6 linked regions of the Homo sapiens genome follow. The protein of the gene in region 3 purifies or fractionates together with the protein of the main gene of each other region. This does not show direct contact. Each region holds a gene or a part of one and is shown on either strand. Other genes may lie near its edges.

Region 1 (2,944 bases), 2.7 Mb from region 3:
ACCTGCACGCGGCAGGTCTGTGCCCGAGTCACCCACGGGCCATACTTTGTAGTTTCAGCCTTTCGAGCCACTGCAGCCGTCAGTGCTGTGCTCCTAAGCCATGGGACCCGAGGACTGCCCCCCGGCGCCTGCCCAGGCGGAGGCCCTTTCAGAAAGGGCGAAGCTCACGCCTGACTCTGCGGGCCGCGGGGCCGCGTTCCCAGTGGACAGCGTGGTGAGCCGTGGCCGGACGGCAGGAGGAGAGGGGAGCCCCCTCTGGCTGTGTGTCACCTTGGCTGGCTGGCTGGCCAGGGTTTTGCCGATTTCCCTCCTCACATCCCTCCCACCCTCGGTCATATCATTGAGATCACCGTACCAGCAAATCTGCAAACCAAGCACTTTGTTAATCTCCAGAGAGAGCAAATACAGCAATCTAGAGTTTAGCCTTTTTAAAAATGTGACTTTAACCCGCCCACCTGTGTCCTCCCATTGGCGTGGCATTTCTTTGGTGTCTGCTCAGAAAGAAACAGCATGGGACCGTGTGATTGGGTCCAGGCTGGGCTGTCAGGGAAGCGCCCTGGTGTCTCCGACTCATCAATTCTCGGGTCTTTTTTAAAAGCCAGGCTCCCCAAAGCACTCTGTCTCGCAATTTTGAGGAGGCTGTTCCGACCTGGAAGCGTTAAACTGCTGCATGTCATCTGGCGTCAGCTGTGAGGCTGCGCTCTGCGTGTTGTGCGTTTGCAAAATGTATTGGCGTGACTGTAAACACATCGTTGAAGTAAAGCGATTACATATTGAGTATGTCAGCTTTTCTCACCCTCTTCTGTGCTGGGAGGAGAGTCTAACTGTAACCTTTAGGTTGTTCCAGAAAAGATTCAGGCCGTTTGGCACAGAATTGCTCTTTCTGAAGGGTAGCAGTAATGAATAGGAACAGACAGAAAACCCCAGGAGGGGCTTTCAGGAAACTCTCCCTCTCCATCGCCATCCTGCAAGCTCCACAGCCTCGGGCTGCCAGCCTGTGGCACTGTCCTCGGTGTGTCCTGGAGCTGTGCTGGGCAGCAGGGCCTCGCGTAAGGAACTGCTGGAACCCACTGAGCCCTTCCCGGGGTTTCCCGCCGCACTCAGTGTGTTCCTTCAGGCTAGTGAGGTTTCATTCTGTTTTATTTGCAAGCTTATCAAAAGTTTGTGGAAGATACATTGTTGGGTTCCAGAGGCTGGAGTCATGCTGCCCACATCTTGTTTGGGAAAGCAAAAGCTCCCAGTGAGCTGGTGTCCCCGTGTGTCTTTCATGGGACTGTCCCCTTTAGAGATCCCACCTGTCAGAGCCACAGCTTCGGGGTCCTGTCATCACATCCCCTGGGAGGGGAGGCAGGAGGAGGCCGAGGGCCCCAGGATGTCTGCCTGGTCCCTTCTCACTGTGAGGACGCCCTTGGCACACCTTTCTCAAGTCACACAAATTACTGCAGTTACATACAGAATTGCTGACAGGAGCAGGAGACGCTGAGGGAAACAGCTGGCAATGTGACAAAAGTCTTTTCTGGGACAACAATCAAATCATGTATTTGTATTTTTTTAAGTTTACCAATGAATTGTACAACAATGTAAAAATAAAGTTCATCCTAATATGCTGTGCACATCTTGCTTAAAAATGTCTTCAGCACCCAGTGCAGTGATCTTTCCCTCACACACTGCATGCAGCAGGAGCCTCTTGTTTTTCTTAATGAGCTGAAAAGACAGCAGATGTTCACAGCTGATGCTGGGTGTTGACTCAGCGCCACGGGAAGCTCTGTGCCCGCAGGTAAGCACGCACAGTCTTACAGTTCTCCTTGTAAAATATCATCACCCTTCCTGCCTGAGAAACGAGTACATTTGTATTTTATGTAACAACAATAGTCAAGGCAGCATTGCAACACTGAGCAGGGTGAGGTGGGGGTGCTGAGCACAGGACAAGAGGGAGGAGGCCTGCCCTCCATTCAGATGCATCTGCATCGCCCTTCTGTGTGCAGTCACATCGAGACTGCACACAGCATGCATCTCCTCTTGGAAAATATCTTTTGCCTCCGAGTTGTTTTAAGCAATTAGAATCAGGTCCTGAATCCCCAGACTGTTCAGAGACTTCAAGGGACACCTCCCTCACAAGAAGCCTGGCACCCCCACTGTGTACCTTTGAGAGGAAAGGAGTGCGTTTGTTTTCATCTGCATTCTGTTTGTCAGTGGCAACAGACTCTATCAATGTAAAACCATGGTTGTGATCATGTGGGGAAATCAAATAAATCCTTTGAAACTCTCGGATTCTCACTTTTTCTGAAAAGTCCAGAAGTTGCCCTGTTGGCCAGACCCAGATCTCCAGCTGATGAGTTTCCCCATTACTTGTTGTGACTCTGGGCACTCACTTTCCTTGAAGACATTGGACTGACTGAGGACACTGATACAAAATTTAAAATAAAGGGACACATCACAACCAATAGAAGGTTTCAAAGGTATTTATAATTTCTAGCAACTTTCAACAAGTGATGGTCCTTTCATGGAGTTAGAGGGGATGAATTCTATTAAGCGTTGAGGTACACTGATTATGACTTAGGGAAAAAAATACCCAGTGGCCCAGTCCCCAGTAAAGATGGATGATGACAGGAGTTCAGAGCAGCCTGCGTTTCCATGTTGGCTCATATCATGTACAAAAGCCAAGATGGTAAAGTCATTCTCCTGGAAGGAAGGGGCCTGTGAGGATGTAATTGGCTTCTGCGATTTCTCCTTTCCTGGCCAAACATAATTCCTGAGAACACCACTTTAAACTTTCAGTGCATGGGATAAAAGGAACTGGCAGATCTAACTAGTGGAAAACCAAACAAAAAAAAGTTAATTTTGGTGACCAAAATGAACTCTGGCCCTCCCTCCGTACAGCACATTCTGATTGAAAGATGTTCTCACAGGGGCCCCCTCTTCCAGTCTCATTCATAGCCACTAC
Region 2 (3,847 bases), on a different chromosome or scaffold from region 3:
TTGTATTTTTAATAGAGACGGGATTTCGCCTTGTTGGCCAGGCTGGTCTTGAACTCCTGACCTCAAGTGATCTGCCTGCCTCGGCCTCCCAAAGTGCTGGCATTACAGGCATGAGCCACCCACACCCAGCCAACTAATTATCTTTTATACCAGATCCCACTTTTTACTTAGTGCTGTTAGCATAGCAGTTTTTATAAACATTCTTCAGGTAGGACCTGTTTGCCTTGATATCAAAGAGATGGAAGGAGTTGCTCACTTTTGTTCCCAGCCTTCTTTCTAGAAATCTGCCTTCCTTCTTCCTATCAAATGTTAGCGGAGCACCGTCTCTTCTTTAGCCGTCACTGCTTGCCTTGTACAGTGAAGGAAGTCTGGTGAGCAGCAGTCCAGGAACTGCCCACGGGTACCCTGGGTTGGGGGTTTTCCTAGGCCTTTACACAGACCGCAGAATTTATCCTTGATATATGCTGTCATGTGGTTTGGGCATTTACTAGCATTGAACTTATTTGAGTAGACAGCAGTGTAGTTTCAACCTGTTTTTTATAATGTGTAAATTTGGATGCTTTTATAGGTAGAAGCCACTCATTCTTCATCTACCCTTTTTTCAGTATCTGGCACCAATTCTGACCCAGTCATTTGTGATCCCTGGCTCTTGTGATATGCTGAAGATTTCCAGGCAGTTTTTGTGGAACACCTCCCCGTCCAGCTCTAATCAAGCACCATATAAACAAGAAATTGCCTGGTCAAATCTGTGAGGACTGTATTCTGACTGCCAAAGAGATCAATACTGACACCAGAATGGCAGCTACTCTCAAGTCATTAAAACTTGTAAGATACCGAGCATTTTGCAGTCCTTCTGCCTTTGGTGCAGTCCGAAGTGTGTCATACTGGAATGTGAGCAGCACACAGCATGGGGGACAGGACCCTCCAGAACACATTAGCCTCTGCCATTCTGCCAAAAAAGTTAAGAACATATGTAGCACCTTCTCTTCTCGGAGAATCCTGACAACCAGCAGTGCCCACCCAGGTTTGGAATTCAGCAAGACTTCTTCCTCTAAGGCCAGTACATTGCAGCTGGGCTCACCCAGGGCCACAGGAGTTGATGAAGAGGACGTAGAAGTGTTTGATTCCTTTGAAAACATGCGAGTTTTCCTACAGCTAAGACCAGAATACCGTGTTCACAGCTATAATGCATCTGAGACTTCTCAGCTCCTGTCTGTTTCAGAAGGTGAACTAATTTTGCACAAAGTCAGAGTTAATCAAAATAATCTCCAGGCTCAAGTCATTGTTGATTATTTGTGTAAGCTGAGCTCTTTGCCTGCAGAGCAGCATCCTGTCTTGCTGGGCAGTACCAGCTTTGCTCTGCTCTGCCAGCTGAGTGTGAAGAAGATACAGCTCTTTGATACCCAAGATCTGATCAATGTTTTGAAAGCTTTTGTCATTTTAGGAATCCCTCACTCCCATTCAATGCTAGATGTGTATGAGACCAAGTGTTGCCATCAGGTATGGGAGATGAATATGGATCAGCTCCTTTTGGTGGCTGATCTCTGGAGGTACTTAGGCCGCAAAGTACCTAGGTTTTTAAACATTTTTTCTAGTTATCTTAATTTGCACTGGAAGGATCTATCCTTGTCTCAGCTAGTTCACTTAATTTATGTTATAGGTGAAAATCGTCAGGTATCCCAGGACCTAATGCAAAAATTGGAATCATTGATCCTTAAATATATAGATTTGATCAATTTGGAGGAGGTTGGTACCATCTGTTTGGGGTTCTTTAAATCAAGTACTAATCTCTCTGAATTTGTCATGCGGAAAATTGGAGACTTGGCTTGTGCTAACATTCAGCATCTGAGTAGTCGCTCCTTAGTGAATATTGTTAAAATGTTCCGTTTCACTCACGTGGATCACATCAATTTCATGAAGCAGATTGGAGAGATAGCTCCTCAGCGAATTCCTTCCCTGGGAGTTCAAGGTGTCATGCACCTGACTCTTTACTGCTCGGCCTTACGCTTCCTGAATGAAGGAGTAATGAATGCAGTGGCTGCGTCTTTGCCTCCTAGAGTGGCACACTGTCGAAGTAAAGATGTTGCCAAGATTCTGTGGTCATTTGGAACTCTGAATTATAAGCCACCCAATGCAGAAGAATTTTACTCCAGCCTGATAAGTGAGATTCACAGAAAGATGCCTGAATTCAACCAGTACCCAGAACACCTGCCCACCTGCCTGCTGGGCCTGGCATTTTTGGAGTACTTTCCAGTAGAGTTAATTGATTTCGCTCTCAGTCCAGGGTTTGTCAGGTTAGCTCAGGAGAGAACTAAGTTTGACCTCCTTAAGGAACTATATACCCTCGATGGTACAGTTGGCATTGAGTGTCCAGATTACAGAGGCAATCGTCTTAGTACTCACCTTCAGCAAGAGGGGTCTGAATTGCTGTGGTATTTAGCAGAGAAGGATATGAATTCAAAGCCTGAATTCTTAGAAACTGTCTTTTTACTGGAGACCATGCTGGGGGGGCCCCAGTACGTCAAGCACCATATGATTTTGCCTCATACCCGATCTTCTGACTTAGAGGTCCAGCTTGATGTTAACCTGAAGCCATTACCATTTAATAGAGAAGCCACGCCGGCTGAAAATGTAGCCAAATTAAGGCTTGAGCATGTGGGAGTCAGCCTTACAGATGATTTGATGAATAAGTTACTAAAAGGGAAAGCAAGAGGACATTTCCAGGGCAAAACTGAGTCAGAGCCTGGGCAGCAGCCCATGGAGTTGGAGAATAAGGCAGCTGTACCTCTGGGGGGCTTCCTTTGCAATGTAGCAGATAAATCAGGGGCCATGGAGATGGCTGGCCTGTGCCCCGCAGCCTGCATGCAGACCCCAAGAATGAAGCTGGCTGTTCAGTTCACAAACAGGAACCAGTATTGCTATGGCTCCAGGGATCTCCTTGGACTGCACAATATGAAGAGGCGGCAGCTGGCTCGGCTTGGCTACCGTGTGGTAGAGTTATCCTACTGGGAATGGCTCCCACTACTGAAACGAACTCGCTTAGAAAAGTTGGCGTTTCTTCATGAGAAAGTATTCACCTCTGCTCTCTGAAGGGCATTTAGGGGCATTTCTATGGCAAAGCTATAGGTGTATACTGTACCAGGTGTTGCAAAATGATTATAAAAGCCAGAATGTAAGTTTGGCGATAAAATAGTGTGTTGAGGAGACTTAATTGTATCCAAGGCAGGTTAGAGCTAGTGTATGTTACTGTGAATTGTAATGTAGTTGGATTGTACAAATTACTGCAAATGTATACATGTTACTCTTAGTAAATAATAAACATCTTAATATGTCCTACGGTCAAGTAAGTCCTTGTTGGATTTTTCTTTCTGTTTACCAGCCTTATGTCACAGAGTTTTTAGAATAAAAGTATAGTCAGACATTATATAAAGCCAATTTTTAAAAATTTTATTCTTTTCTGGAGACCCTCCCCCCACCCTTACAGATTTTTTTTTTTTTTAAAGCCAGTTTTTTTGTTTGTTTTTTGAGATGGAGTCTCGCTCTGTCACCCAGGCTGGAATGCAGTGGCACAATCTCAGCTCACTGCAACCTCCGCCTCCCAGATTCAAACAATTCTCCTGCCTCATCCTCCCGAGTAGCTGAGACTACAGGCGCGTATCACTACACCTGGATAATTTTTGTCTTTTTAGCAGAAACGGGGTTTCTCCATGTTGACCAGGCTGGTCTTGAACTCCTGACTTCCGGTGATCCGCCTGCCTTGGCCTCCCAAATGCTGGGATTACAGGTGTGAGCCACCGCGTCTGGCCTTTTTTTTTTTTTTGAGACGGAGTCTCCCTCGGTTGCCCAG
Region 3 (3,500 bases):
AGTGCAGGTGTGAGGAGTCAGACGGAAAGAATGATCTACTTCCTCATGTCCCACCCCTCTTCTGCCCTCTCCTCCTCCAACGCCACCAATAACCTCCCAGGTACCACATACTCTGACCCCTAAGGGCCTGGCCCCAGGGTGGAAAGATGAAAACTGTCTGCCTTCAACGAGTATGGTGGTCCTCATCCTGCTTTACTGCTCTGCAACACATGACATCTCAACTGCCCCATCTCCAGAAACGGAGACTGAGAGGTTAAGGGACTTGCCCAAGGTCACAAACTAGAAAGCAGTAAAGCCAGGACCAGATCCCACACCTGCCTGACTCTAGGACTGGGGTTCTTTCCTGAAATCCTCTTCTGCTGGTTCTCAGTCACCATTCCCTCCTGACTTTCCTCCTACCTCTCTGACCACTCTTTCCTGGCCCTTTTCACTAAGACCCTCCTCCTTTGCCTTCCTCTTTCTGCCAGCTGGACTCCTCATCTTGTTTTGTATGTTGCTCCTCCAGGAACCTCCCATTGCTATAAGGAATATTCCCAAATCTCTTATCTCCAGCCCCATCCTAAGCTCCAGACCTGAATGTCAATTTGCATCCTGATGCTCAGGTCAACATCATCCTAGCCTCAACAAGTCCCAAACCTGCTTCTTCACCCATATTTATTATCCCAGAAAGGCACATCACCACCCACCCAGTTTCCTAGAAACCTTCTTATCTCCCGTATCAAATCAGTCACCATTCACTGCCACAAATAACTTTTAAAATGTCCCTTCATTCCCCTCTCCTCTGCCTTGGGTCACTTGGATTGGGTCAGGCTCTGATTCAGCCTCCCCAAGACTGCTGTAAATGGCCTCCTGCCTTATCTCTCCGCCCTCCTCTGCTTCCCGCAAGCCATCCTATTACTCGCTTTTGCATACTTATTAGAGTTATTTACATGTCAGTCTCCCCACTGGACCATAAACCTCCCCAAGGCAGGGGCTCTGTATGCTTCTGGCGTACACTCCCTAGAGCCTAGAAAAGGGCTTAACTACCCACATTTTCTGAATCAATGAATGAAGGAGTGACTGCCGACTCCATGAAAGCACTAAGCCAAAGTGGAAAGGGAATCATACTTCCAGTTTTTATTAGATGTATGTGTGTGTGTGTATCTGTGTGTGTGTGTGTGTGTGTGTACACATGTGAGTATTCATATACATGTATGAATAGAGAAAGCATTAAAGAAAACATATCAAAATATGGGCCCAGCACAGTGGCTCACATCTAAAATCCCAACACTTTTGGAGGCCAAAGCAGGAGGATCACTTGAGCCAGGGAGTTCAAAACCAACCTGGGCAACATAGTGAGATCGTGTCTCTACAAAAAAAGTTTTAACAATTAAAAATGAAAATATATCAAAATATTAAAACAGTAGTGCTTATTTATAGGTGCTGTGAAAAAGTTTCTATTTTCTTATTTATAATTTTCTTTATTCCTTTTTAAATTTGTTTTACTTTTTAATTAATTAATTAATTTTTTTTTTTTTTTTTTTTTGAGACAGAGTCTCACTCTATTGCCCAGGCTGGAGTGCAGTGGTGCGATCTGGGCTCACTGCAACCTCCACTTTCTGGGCTCAAGTGATTCTCATGCCTCAGCCTCCTGAGTAGCTGGGACTACAGGTGCATGCCAACACACCAGGCTGATTTTTGTATGAATTTTTTTTAGTAGAGATGAGGTTTCGCCATGTTGGCCAGGCTGGTCTCAAACTCCTGACCTCAACTGATCTGCCCACCTCGGCCTCCCAAAGTGCTGGCATTACAGGTGTGAGCCACCATGCCTGGCCTTTATTTATTTTTGAGACAGAGACTCACTTTGTTGCCCCGGCTGGAGTGTAGTGTCATGATCTCGGCTCACTGCAACTTCTGCCTCCTGGGCTCAAGTGATCCTCCCATCAGCCTCCTGAGTAGCTGGGACTGCAGGCATACACCACCACACCCAGCTAATTTTTGTATTTTTTGTAGAGACGGGGTTTTGCCATGTTGCCCAGCTGATCTTGAACTCCTGGACTTAAGTGATCCACTCGCCTCAGCCTCCCAAAGTGCTGGGATTATAGGTGCGAGCCACCATGCCCAGCCAAAAAAAGTTTTTGTATATATATTTTTTTCAGTTGAGACAGGGTCTCGCTATGTTGCCCAAGCTGGTCTCAAACTCCTTGGCTCAAGGAATCCTCTTGCCTCAGCATCAAAGTTCTAGGATTACAGGCATAAACCACCATACCTGGTCAATTTTCTTTATTTTTTAACACTGGTTACAGAATGAACAGATACTCAATTTTCTTTATTTCTTAAAATACCCTACAATATAAGGCACAAGTGTTTCAGATGAAAAATAATTAAAAAAAAAAAAAGCACACACATGGCAGGGCACAGTGGCTCACACCTATAATCCCAACATCTTGGGAGGTCAAGGCAGGAGGATCACTTGAGCCCGGGAGCTCAACACCAGCCTGGTCAACATAGCAAGACCCTATCTCTACAAAAAAAAAAAAAAAAAAAAGCAAAAAATGAGCTGGGCGCACACCTGTAGTCCCAGCTTCTCAGAGGCTGAGGTGGGAGGATCACCAGCCCATGAGTTCAAAGCTGCAGTGATCTACAATCATTCCAAGGCCATTCCAGCCTGGGCAATAGAGCAAGACCCTAGCTCTTAAAAAAGAAAAAAAAGTCAGGCACGGTGGCTCACGCCTGTAATCCCAGCACTTTAGGAAGCCAAAGCAGAAAGATCACTTGAGGTCAGGAATTTGAGACCATCCTGGCCAACATGTCAAAACCCCGTCTCTACTAAAAATATGAAAATTAGCCGGGCCTGGTGGCGCACGCCTGTAATCCCAGCTACTCGGGAGGCTAAGGCACGAGAATCACCTGAACCTGGTAGGCAGAGATTGCAGTGAGCCGAGATCACGCCACTGCACTCCAGCCTGGGAGACAGAGCAAGACTCTGTCTCAAAAAACAAAAAAAGAAAAGAAAAGAAAAAAAAAAAGGAGAGAAGATTTATTCCCATGTGGAAGGAAGGAGTTGGAGTAAGCCAAGTTTCCTTTATAATTCTAATCTACACATAGAATTGCTACACAGGAGAAGAATGGACTCTGGAGCCAAACCAGGTAGATCCAAATCCTGGCTCTGCCACTCATTAGCTGTGTGACCTTGGATGAGACATTTAACCCCTCTGTGCCTCAATTTACCCATCTGTAAAATAATGTGATAATAGTAGCTACATTTATAGGGTTCTTGTAAGGACTAAATGAGTTTATATATAATAGAGTGCTTAAAACATGACTGGGCACACAGGAAGCACTATATAAAGGTTAGCTATCATTATTACTAAACAAAGGGGAGGCTTACCTAAGACAAATCTGCAACTCTGCCTGGAAGAATCTTTCGATTGATCCTGGACTTGAACAGGCTGTCTGTAGAGAAAGACATCAGAACATGAAGATCCCGCCCCACCCCTGCAGCCTCCACCCCCACTAGA
Region 4 (3,500 bases), on a different chromosome or scaffold from region 3:
ACAAAACGGACTCATCTACAAAATGAAGCCACCGGAGGCTGCTTTCAGCTCTTTCTGTGCTTTCCAGTTGTGACTTTTCATTAATGTGCAAGTATGAATCCTGGCCTCTTGTGTCAGTGGACTTTGGTCACATGGGTAGATGTGTTTGTTAAGGGTCATTGGTAAATGCCAGAAGAGGCCAGAGCAATGGGATGCCAAGCAACATTAAAACATCATTAAGCCTATAAAATTCTATCTGGGAGACTGAGATTCTCTCTCTCTCTCTCTCTCTCACACACACACACACACACACACACACACACACACACATACACAAGAATGCACACCCCAACAAACAGGTACACAAATAACTGCAAGCAGATCCATTTAAACAATTTAAACAATGTTTCTTAGGTCAGTAAGACTCACAAAAAAAATCTGATTTTGGTTGTTGTTGTTAAATTTAAGGTCAAGAATCTACCATACAGCCGATTAATTTTGCACTGCTTAATGGCAACTCTAGCATGGGATTGTTTTTAAGTAAAAGTTCTATGGACATTTTTACTCTACAGATTTGCACTAAGAAACACAGGACACTATCATCACACACATTAGTGTCTATATCTAACCTACTTTAACAAGTAGAACTCTATCACGTACTATACTACAGGGTCAGTCATTTCACACTGTACAGAAACATATGCAGATATCACTCACAAAATTAATCTGAATATGGCATAGCTTAAAATTGCAAGGGCAAAGTCTATTCGAAATGTAGCATTCTTAATGCAACACTTCTGTGGTGTGTGTGTGTGTGTATTTTCCTCCAAGAGAAATAGAAATTAGGTCAGACATGCATTATGGCAGCCTGGGAGAGTTTGAGAAATTGACACTAACCCAACAGTATATTATGTTATGTAATAGAGGATAGTATTCAGCTAATATGACACCTAAATTATTAATACCAAATAAATCCTAGATTATTTGTTGTATAATGCCCAAGAGCTTACACAATAAAATGGCATTTTAACCTAATTTCTATTTTGAGCTTTCAAATACATTTCCTAAAGGTTTTATGATCAATTTGAAAAATCAGAGCTCACAATTTTATGTTGAATTCTCATGCCAATTAGCAGTATTAGCTTTGTATTCTAGCCATTATATTTTTGTTTTATTTCACATTAATTCCATCACTTTTATATGCATATTTTGTGCTGCTTGAAGATAACAGACAGCATGTAAATAAATTAAATTGTCTTGACCTCACAGGGCTATTTTCTAGCCTTGCTTTTTGGAATTAGCCCTGCTTGTCTTTCCTTCACTTCCCCCCACCCTCCTCACCATTTTCAGGGATTCAGTGGAACATAAAAACAGTTATATTTATAAGTGGAGTCCTTGTCACATACCACTTGCTTCATGAATTCCATAAAAGAAGTTAGATGAGAGCTGTAAAGCTCACAGCTATTTCTGAATGCACATGCACCCAGGGATAGGAATTTATCACGTACTTGTAGCAGATCTTTCTTCATGAGCATCTATAGATCATTACACATTTAAGAACATTTGACAGTTTATGAGGAACTGGTCCACTTATATTGGGAATTTGAGCTGTTAGTTTACCTTGCCACCTTTCTTGGTAAAAACGTGTTAAAATACAGGAGATCTTCTCTCATATCAACAAGAGGAAACAGGAATTCTAACTGGCTTAACTCTTGTGGAAGAGCATCTTTCAAAAAAGAATCACAGGCCATTTATTAAAATGCCCGCCTGGGTTGACCATCAGTCACAACACTCATGGCCAGTGCAAGACTCCAAAACCAGGAGAAAAGACACTCTTCTGTTACTCTCCATTTGCCTCTTACAAAATGCAGGACTTAAATACACAGAAGAGGAGCGAGTGTTGCAGGTGACGTGTAGGAGACCACTCGCTGGGTCAAGATGTCCAAGAAGTGGCCACCGCTTCAGAGACTTGACTCATTCATGCCCAATGAAGTCTTCATCCCAGGATTCTTCAGCAAAGACTCAAACACCTGAGGTAAATCAAATTAGACACACACACATACACACACAAATACACAATATTTACATTTGAAATTCTTATTTTGTGAGATGGCTTGAGGAAAATCGGCATACAGGTTTTCCCATGGGATTAGACATTTCTCATGATTTCTCGGTTTATTGCTCCCCTGTTGAGCTTTCAGTTCCATAAACACGTAGCAAGCTCTAATTACAAGTGAAGAAAATGAAGGTTCATGACAAAACACAACACATTGGAGACACTTGTTCAAATATTTCCTCCAAATAAAATGACTGTCCATTTTGACTTATTTTGTTTTGGTGCCATTCAAAATGTATTAAAAGCCTTAGCAACTAAATGAAGACTGGGTTTCAATAAAAAGAAAAAAAAAATAAAGAAGCCAGCAGTGCATGTCTTCACTGAATTTTTACACGGATTCGCAGGTTTAATTCTACTTGTCTACAGAGCATCTTTGTTTGAATCTACCGCATTTAGAGAAGGTCACATTGTACGCACTTGTACAGTTTAACGTCTAAGTAGAATATGTCTATCTTGTAACATGATTTTGAAAAATCATAAATTACAGTCCATTGAATACATGATTATGAGGATGCATGCAATCATCTTCCAAGCTGTTGCCATCAACACTCAGAACAATTCACCTGGTATCTTGTTGAGACCGCACCTTCTGCCCTTTGTGTCTGTCTTGGGGTAATCAAGAGGCAACCCAGAGGCCAGCGCTCAGCACCAAATGGTCAGTGTTGCCCCCCATCTTCTCACTGGGATCTCATCATCAACCTGCTCAACCCCTAAGTTGGCACCCACAAGAGACTTCCCTGCAGCCCTCTTCAGCCACAGGATATCACAGTGAAGCGCTTAGAAATGCAAGACATGTTGTGAAGCACGATGCCGAGGAGGAAGACCAAGACGCAAGCCACCAAGATGACAGTGCACACCCCCGACCAGGTGGAGCTTTTCACCACGCCCCGCCTGTCCTGCTCCTCCTCCACCGCCTCCTGGGGAGCCCCACCTTGCAGAGGCTGCTGTTCAGCAGGGATGGTCACCACGGTGACGGACTTCTGCTGGCTCCCGGGCAGCAGGCGGCAGCCCATGTCTCCGGGCAGCAGCGCACGCTCCTTGGAGATGGGCAGGGGCAGCATGTAGCACCCATTGCTGGGAAGTTTGATGAAGACCGGGGTGTGTTCGGAAGTGTGTGGAATGGCGATGACAGCCAGGACCTCCGGGTCGTCCGGGAGCTGCGACACGGAGAAGCCGGGAGGCAGCTTGGTGACACCGCGGCACCAGGGGCACCGCACATCCTTCTGGCTGGTCCTCATCTGCTGCAGGCACACTGAACAGCAGGTGTGCTTGCAGTCCAGCAACTTGGGCCTGCGCCGGGGGCTGTAGTAATTGAAACAGATCTGACATTCCAGCAGAGAGTCCTGGGACAGCGTCTCCATGGTGGACCGTGAGCAGGAAGGGCAAGGCCAAGGTGAAGGGGAAG
Region 5 (3,500 bases), on a different chromosome or scaffold from region 3:
TAAAAGTACTATGATCTGATAATTGCCTAATATGTATGTTACAATCTTCTTAACTAGGGACATTTATTAAAATAGAACAAACTAGTAAAAGTATTTTGTACGATGCTGGATTATTGTTAAAGTCTCTAAAGTCTAGTTTTGCTGTATTTAAACCAATGCAAATTTAATTGAGAACTGCACATTTTGAAAGCAACTTGGAGGAGGCAGGTCAAGTGTTGGGACAGTAAAGTATGAATAGATTATTATGGGACAGGAAGCAGCAATGTGACATGCCTAATTTTGGCCTGATGAGCAACAGAAAAGGGGAATGGGTTGAATAGATAAAGTGAAGGAAGTTCATTAGAGGGACTTGATGAAATCACCTAGAGAGGACTCGTATAGCTTTTTCTCTTGGGTTTCCTGTCTTGTTTTAGGGAGACTTGACACTGGCATCTTTGTACAAGAAGGATTTGTGAGGAAGGGATGTTGGGGAATAAATGAATGCAGGTGAGATTGCTTAGGTAATTGTAGGCTTTAATCTGTATGTGAGGTGATAAGGGCTTAGATGGTTTTTCCTAAAGAAGAAATTATGCCAATTACAAGATACAGGTTAGGAAGAATGGACCAGAGGAATTAGGCAGTCAGTGAAGATGTGGACTTGATTGTGGATGTGATTGAAAAAAAAAATGGTGTTGCTTCTGTAGCACCTGAAGGGCTTAGTTGGGAAATGTTCATGTGGGATTATCAGCATGGTTGACTAAAGCTGCCTACTGAAGTATTAAACAGAGGAAGAACAGGAAGCAGATGAGGGGATGTCTTGGGTTATATTCAGATAGAGAATGGAAGGAAAAAGAGGATGTAGGTTAAGAGAGAGGGTGAAGGAAAATTAGAAGAGTGCAGTAATGGGAGCAAGAAAAGGATGAGTGTTTCCAGGAGCTATAAGTATTAGTTGAAACCAAAAAGTTGGGTGGAACGAGACTACAATTTTTTTTTTGAGACAGGGTCTCTGCTCTGTCACCCAGGCTGGAGTGCAGTGGTGTGATCTCTGCTCACTGCAACTTCCGCTTCCTGGGCTCAAATGATCCTCCTGCCTCAGCCTCCTGAGTAACTGGGACTACAGGCAATGCTCCATGACGCCTGGCAAATTTTCTTTGTTGTTGGTAGAAACAGTATTGCCCAGGCTGGTCTTGAACTCCTGAGCTCAAGTGATGCGCCCACCTTGGCTTCTGAAAGTGCTGGGATTACAGGCGTGAGCCACCGTGACTGGCCAAGACTGTAGACATTTATATGACTAGAAAGTAAGGCTAACACATGTATATTTTGACCTGTTGATAACTTTGAAAGGTGGAGTGCCAAGATTAAGGTGAGAATGGGAAAATTTAAGTTTTTTTTTTCCTATTGCTTATTTTTGCCTTGTTATACTTCTAGGTAAAAAAGATAGACAAAGTGCAGATGAACTATTTAGTTCAGAACACACATTTTAGAGATTCTGTTCTGTTAAGAGGAGTTTTGTGAAAACTAGATCTAATTTTAGGAATTTTCTCACCAGAAAAACGGAGCTTCATTTCTTAAACCCTCATCTGGAAAGATTCCTAAGCCTCCTAAGGCTGACATTGCACCTTTTGAAAGCCTGCCTCTAGGAGGAACATAGGTCATCTTTTCTTTTTTTTTTTTTTGAGACGGAGTCTCGCTCTGTCACCAGGCTGGAGTGCAGTAGCACGAATCTCGGCTCACTGCAACCTCCGCCTCCTGGGTTCAAGAGATTCTCCTGCCTCAGTCTCCTGAGTAGCTGGGACTACAGGCATGCGCCACCACCCCCAGCCAATTTTTGTATTTTTAGTAGAGACGGGATTTCACCTGGTTGGCCAGGATGGTCTCGATCTCTTGACCTCGCCATCTGCCTGCCTTGGCCTCCCAAAGTGCTGGGATTACAGGTGTGAGCCACGGCGCCCAGCCTAGGCCTTATTTTCAGAGTGGCTTTCATGGATCTAGTAGTGTAGGCATTATGAAATAATATGATACTTAATTTCATTGCCATTACAGCTTGATGTACATCAAACATCAATACATAAGCAGTTCTCTAAATGTATTAAAGAGTTGTACCAAAGAAAAATCAATAGACTTATCTTTTAAAGTCTGAAGTGATTGGGGCAGAATCGTGACTAGAGAGAAGATACTAGAGATGCTTACTTCCTGGTTCCTTCAGCTCTGATTTTGAAGAACTTTCTTCCATAGGGATGTAGTCTACCTGAGGTGACATCTGTGATAGTAAAGAGACTGGAGAATTATCTCATAATTATTTAGTACCTGTGTCTTGAAAGGTCAGAATAGTTGAGGCAGGAAACTTTAATCCATATTTTTCTTCAGAGTTAGGCACAAAGGGTCAGTAATACTGCTTTAGTTTATTTGATGATTTAAGGATACTTGATACTTTTAAATTATTTAATTTAAAATGATTATAACTGGTCATTTTAATCTGGGGCAGGAGTCCATAGAATTGTTTTTTAATTTGAGTTTTCTTTTTTGTGTTTGAAGGAATTATTCATAACCTTTATCACAGGGGTCCCTCCTGCACAGGAGGTGAGCGGTGTGTGAGTGAACATTGCAGCCCGAGCTCTGCCTCCTGTCAGATCAGCAGCGGCATTAGATTCTCATAGGAGCGCGAACCCTATTGTGAACTGCGCATGCAAGGGATCTAGGTTGTGCGTTCCTTATTCCTTATGAGAATCTAATGCCTGATGGTGGGATAATTTTTATCCTGAAACGATCACCTTTCCCCTTCCCTACCTGCTGTGGAAAAATTGTCTTCCGTGAGACTGGTCCCTGGTGCCAAAAAGGTTAGGAACCACTGCTTTATCAGATCTTCAGAGGGGACAGGGAATCAAATTCGTATAAGAATCACAGTTCTTTATGATGTATATGCTATTTTTTGCTGCTAATCTCCAGATTTTGTGGATATAAAATATATTGTCATCTGATTTTATTTTTTTCCAATAAAATGTGATTTCAGTGATCTTTATTTTTTCTATCTTTAAGTAATATATCCCTATACTACTATCTCATCACTTGTTTAATTTTTGCTAATAAGAATTTGTCAGTTTTACTCTTTTTTTCCCCCCAAGGGAGAGGCAGCTGTTGGGCAGATTCCTTTTTTTTTTAAAAAAAAAAATGTTTTTGAGGTATAGTTTATGTCCAATAAAACGCACACATTTAAAAGCATACCTTGATAGGCTGTGGTAAATGTACACGCCTTTGTGGCCAGACCATTTTCATCACCCCAGGAAGTTCCTCTTGGCTTTACAGTCATTGCTCATGTCCTAGGTAATCACTGATCTTATTTCTACCACTATAGATTTATGTTGTCTCTTCTAGAACTTTGTATAAATGGATACATGCAGTCTATTTTTTGTGTCTGGCTTTTGCTCAGTATAATGTGTTGAGATTAGTTCTTGTTGCATATATCAGTAATTTTATTGCTGAGTAGTATTTTGTATGATAATACTACAACTTGTAAATCCATT
Region 6 (3,500 bases), on a different chromosome or scaffold from region 3:
TGTTCTCTTCTCTAGTATTTACCATAGTTAATAAAATGTATTTCATTACTTGACTCTCTAATTAAAGTTTACCAGGTATGCTTTCAAATTTGTGACTTCTCAGAAAATCACTTAGCATTTTCTTTTAACATTTATATAATAGCTATTTTCTAGTGTAAATATGATGTTGAAGAGCTTTAGAAACATTTTCTCAGTTTTCTTTTTCAGGTTAGTTTTAAATAGGTGTTTTTATGGCAGTCTGAAATTCAACTATCGCTGGCTTGCTAATGCTGTATCTGCGTAGAATACCAGAATTGCCTTAACAAGTAAATCATGAGGCCAGGCGTGGTGGCTCACACCTGTAATCCCAGCATTTTGGGAGGCCAAGGCGGGCAGATCACTTGAGGTCAGGAGTTTGAGACCAGCATGGCCAACGTGGCGAAACTTTGTCTCTACTAAAAATATAAAAATTAGCCGAGCATGGTGGCACTCACCTGTAATCCCAGCTACTCAGGAGGCTGAGGCAGGAGAATCACTTGAATATGGGAGGCAGAGTTTGTAGTGAACTGAGATTACACCGCTGCACTCCAGCCTGGGCAACAGAGTGAGACTCCCGTCTCAAAAAAAAAAAAAAAAAAAAAGTAAATCCTTGATGTGGATATAGTTCTTACAATGAAGCACCAGAGAAAATAGCTTTATTTTCCTAACCCATTCCTAGTAGAGAAATAACATTTCCAATAGTCTTTAAGGAAAAATAGTAAAATGGCAAAAAACAAACCAATTTTAAATAGTAAAAGTATTCTTATATGGTGAAAAATAGGAAAAAAGATCACTTTTTAACCAAATGCAGATTAATGGCTAGTTAATCTGACATAATACAGGAGGATTTTCTGCCATAAAATTCAAGAAACTGAGATAACATTATCTAATATGCCTAATTGTTTGCTGCTAATTTTATGTGAGATATCATCTCTGCTTTCCGTAAGTGCAGATAGAATAAAACTTTTACCTTTTCCTGGAATGAAATAGACTGTTGTTTCCCTGGCACTTAATAAGGATAGCATAATGCTAGAAATTATATTGTGTTACTATGTTCCATAGTCAAAAAATCATGATTACTAGGGCAAAACCCTGTTCATCTCTTAAGAAGAATTTAACTCACTTTGTAATTATTTAATTCCCTTCTGTCTATCTTAGAATATGTGCTCTTTCATTGCAGTATCTATGTTATTTTTGAAAGTTCTTTAGATTGCTGTTAAGCTTCATCCAGATTAATAATGATTTTTCAAGTATAAGTTAATGGTTTCTTTCTATGTGGCTTTCTTTTTAAAAGAATATTTATAGATACTTATGAATTCTGTTAGAGAAAAATGTAAATTTTAACCTGTCATGCATATTAAAAACATACTTTTTGATGATATTCTATGTGTCACTCTAGAATTATAAGCCGTCCTAAAAGTAGAAAAATCTGATCCATCGAGATTGAGAAGGAGCATGATATAGTGGGAAAAGCATGGGTTTTAGAATCAGACGAAACTGGGTAAAAAAATACAGTTCTACTACTTATTTACTTTGTTGCCTTGGAGGAATTACATGGCCTTTCTAATTTATGACTTCTTCATCTGAAAAATGGCAGATGATACTCTCTTGGCAAGGGTGTTAGGAGGGAGGAGAGGATGTAGACAAAATACAAAGTATTTTGAGTAGTTGAGTAATTCTCTTCTGACTTCTCCATTGAGACAGAAATCTAGCCATAACTATGAAATTCTAAATATTTTACATTTTTCTCTAGGAATACGGGGTGCTTTGCATTCAGGAATACAGAAAAAACAGCAAAGTGGAGTCAAGTACACGTAACAACTTCATGGGCTTGAAGGATCACCTAGGGCATGACCTCGGCCACCTTTATGTGGAGAGCACTGACCCACAGTTAAGTCCAGCTGTACCTTGGTCAACAGTAGAAAACCCAAGTATGGATACCGTTAATGTGGGGAAGGATGAAAAAGAGGCGTCTGAAGAGAATGCAAGCTCTGGTGACTCTGAAGAAAACACAAATTCTGATCATGAGTCAGAACAATTGGGTAGCATTTCAGTAGAGCCAGGCTTGATAACTAAGACTCACAGACAGCTCTGCAGGTCTCCCTGTTTAGAGCCTCACATACTCAAGCGCAATGAAATTTTGCAAGACTTTAAACCTGAAGAGTCCCAGACTACATCCAAGGAAGCAAAGAAACCACCTGATGTGGTGCGAGAATACCAAACAAAACTGGAGTTTGCACTTAAGTTAGGTTATTCTGAAGAACAGGTTCAGCTTGTACTAAACAAACTTGGTACTGATGCTTTAATCAATGATATTTTGGGAGAACTTGTCAAACTTGGAAATAAAAGTGAGGCTGATCAAACGGTTAGTACAATTAACACTATAACACGGGAAACTTCTTCCCTGGAATCTCAGAGGTCTGAATCTCCAATGCAAGAGATTGTAACAGATGATGGTGAAAATCTGAGACCAATAGTTATTGATGGCAGCAATGTGGCAATGAGGTAAGTGGAAAAATCGTTACTGAAAATTACTACCAAATAATCTTTAAAAGCCTTATTTCTAATTTTGTGGCTCTTTTCCTTCTCATGGTCATTAAAGTCAACATTTTTCTGTATCCTGATGTTAACATTAGAAAACATTAGTTTTCCGTCTCTCTTCTTTCAGGGCACTCAGCCATCTTTACTTCATTTATCCCCGTATAGAGACCCATTTTTCTCAGATATGTCTCTTTTTGTCCTCATCTGGCTAAATTTCTATGGTATAAAAATTAGTGTGTGTTTCTGGTTTACTATTAATCAGTAGTTTTAAATGAATAATTTGATATGATAATATTCAACAATTTTAGAATCTAGTCAAATGGTCTATTTCTTTAGGAAGTTAAATAACCCTAATTCTTCTAGAAAATAAACTATGTATTTTATTGATTTGAGAAAAAACCAAAGCTGTAGTTTGAATTGTTTTGTAATTTGAGTTGTTTTCATTTAAGAAATTCAAATCAGAAATAATTCTTAAGGAACTGGGGGGAAAAAAAAGCAAAACTTTCAGTGATAATTTTTTTGGCTAGGCAGGGTGTCTCACACTTGTAATCCCAACACTTCGAGAGGTCAAGATGGAAGGATCATTTGAGGCCAGGAGTTTGAGACCAGCCTGAGCAACATAGGGAAACACCTCTACCTATAGCAAAATATATATATATATTTAAAATAAAATTTTAAAAGAAATTTTTTTGTGTGATTTTGATGGCTCAATATTTAAAGCACATCTAAATTCAATCAGCTTATGGGTAACTGCTCACAATTTCAGAGCGCTGTGAAGATAAAAAGATATGTGTATAAAAGCATCAGTTCTTCCTCTGGAGAGCTTAGAGTTTCATATGCAGTTTCTCAGAAGGTGATCTGATGATGCCTACCAGAGAATCATCTGAGGGACTTATGGAAAATGCAGATTCTATATCAGTGCTGTCCAAGGGAAATACAAT

What was found.
Region 1: the proteins of IRAK2 (region 3) and IQSEC1 purify together in Homo sapiens (affinity purification with mass spectrometry; one large-scale study listed by BioGRID and IntAct). This does not show direct contact.
Region 2: the proteins of IRAK2 (region 3) and FASTKD5 purify together in Homo sapiens (affinity purification with mass spectrometry; one large-scale study listed by BioGRID and IntAct). This does not show direct contact.
Region 4: the proteins of IRAK2 (region 3) and RNF152 purify together in Homo sapiens (affinity purification with western blotting, with the first as the bait; one study listed by BioGRID). This does not show direct contact.
Region 5: the proteins of IRAK2 (region 3) and SUB1 purify together in Homo sapiens (affinity purification with mass spectrometry; one large-scale study listed by BioGRID and IntAct). This does not show direct contact.
Region 6: the proteins of IRAK2 (region 3) and ZC3H12C purify together in Homo sapiens (affinity purification with mass spectrometry; one large-scale study listed by BioGRID and IntAct). This does not show direct contact.

What each region holds. Positions count from the first base shown.
Region 1 is NC_000003.12:12,896,543-12,899,486, reverse strand, and holds the end of IQSEC1 (IQ motif and SEC7 domain-containing protein 1), read left to right. Parts: 3' UTR 1-52; coding exon of another isoform or gene 53-97; 3' UTR 98-2,444; downstream 2,445-2,944. UniProt on the Homo sapiens protein: Guanine nucleotide exchange factor for ARF1 and ARF6. Guanine nucleotide exchange factor activity is enhanced by lipid binding. Accelerates GTP binding by ARFs of all three classes.
Region 2 is NC_000020.11:3,146,019-3,149,865, reverse strand, and holds the end of FASTKD5 (FAST kinase domain-containing protein 5, mitochondrial), read left to right. Parts: intron 1-605; 5' UTR 606-795; coding exon 796-3,090; 3' UTR 3,091-3,347; downstream 3,348-3,847. UniProt on the Homo sapiens protein: Plays an important role in the processing of non-canonical mitochondrial mRNA precursors.
Region 3 is NC_000003.12:10,213,419-10,216,918, reverse strand, and holds part of IRAK2 (interleukin-1 receptor-associated kinase-like 2), read right to left. Parts: intron 3,436-3,500; coding exon 3,371-3,435; intron 1-3,370. UniProt on the Homo sapiens protein: Binds to the IL-1 type I receptor following IL-1 engagement, triggering intracellular signaling cascades leading to transcriptional up-regulation and mRNA stabilization.
Region 4 is NC_000018.10:61,813,008-61,816,507, forward strand, and holds part of RNF152 (E3 ubiquitin-protein ligase RNF152), read right to left. Parts: 5' UTR 3,457-3,500; coding exon 2,845-3,456; 3' UTR 1-2,844. UniProt on the Homo sapiens protein: E3 ubiquitin-protein ligase that acts as a negative regulator of mTORC1 signaling by mediating ubiquitination of RagA/RRAGA and RHEB.
Region 5 is NC_000005.10:32,592,057-32,595,556, forward strand, and holds part of SUB1 (activated RNA polymerase II transcriptional coactivator p15), read left to right. Parts: intron 1-3,500.
Region 6 is NC_000011.10:110,134,892-110,138,391, forward strand, and holds part of ZC3H12C (probable ribonuclease ZC3H12C), read left to right. Parts: intron 1-1,771; coding exon 1,772-2,523; intron 2,524-3,500. UniProt on the Homo sapiens protein: May function as RNase and regulate the levels of target RNA species.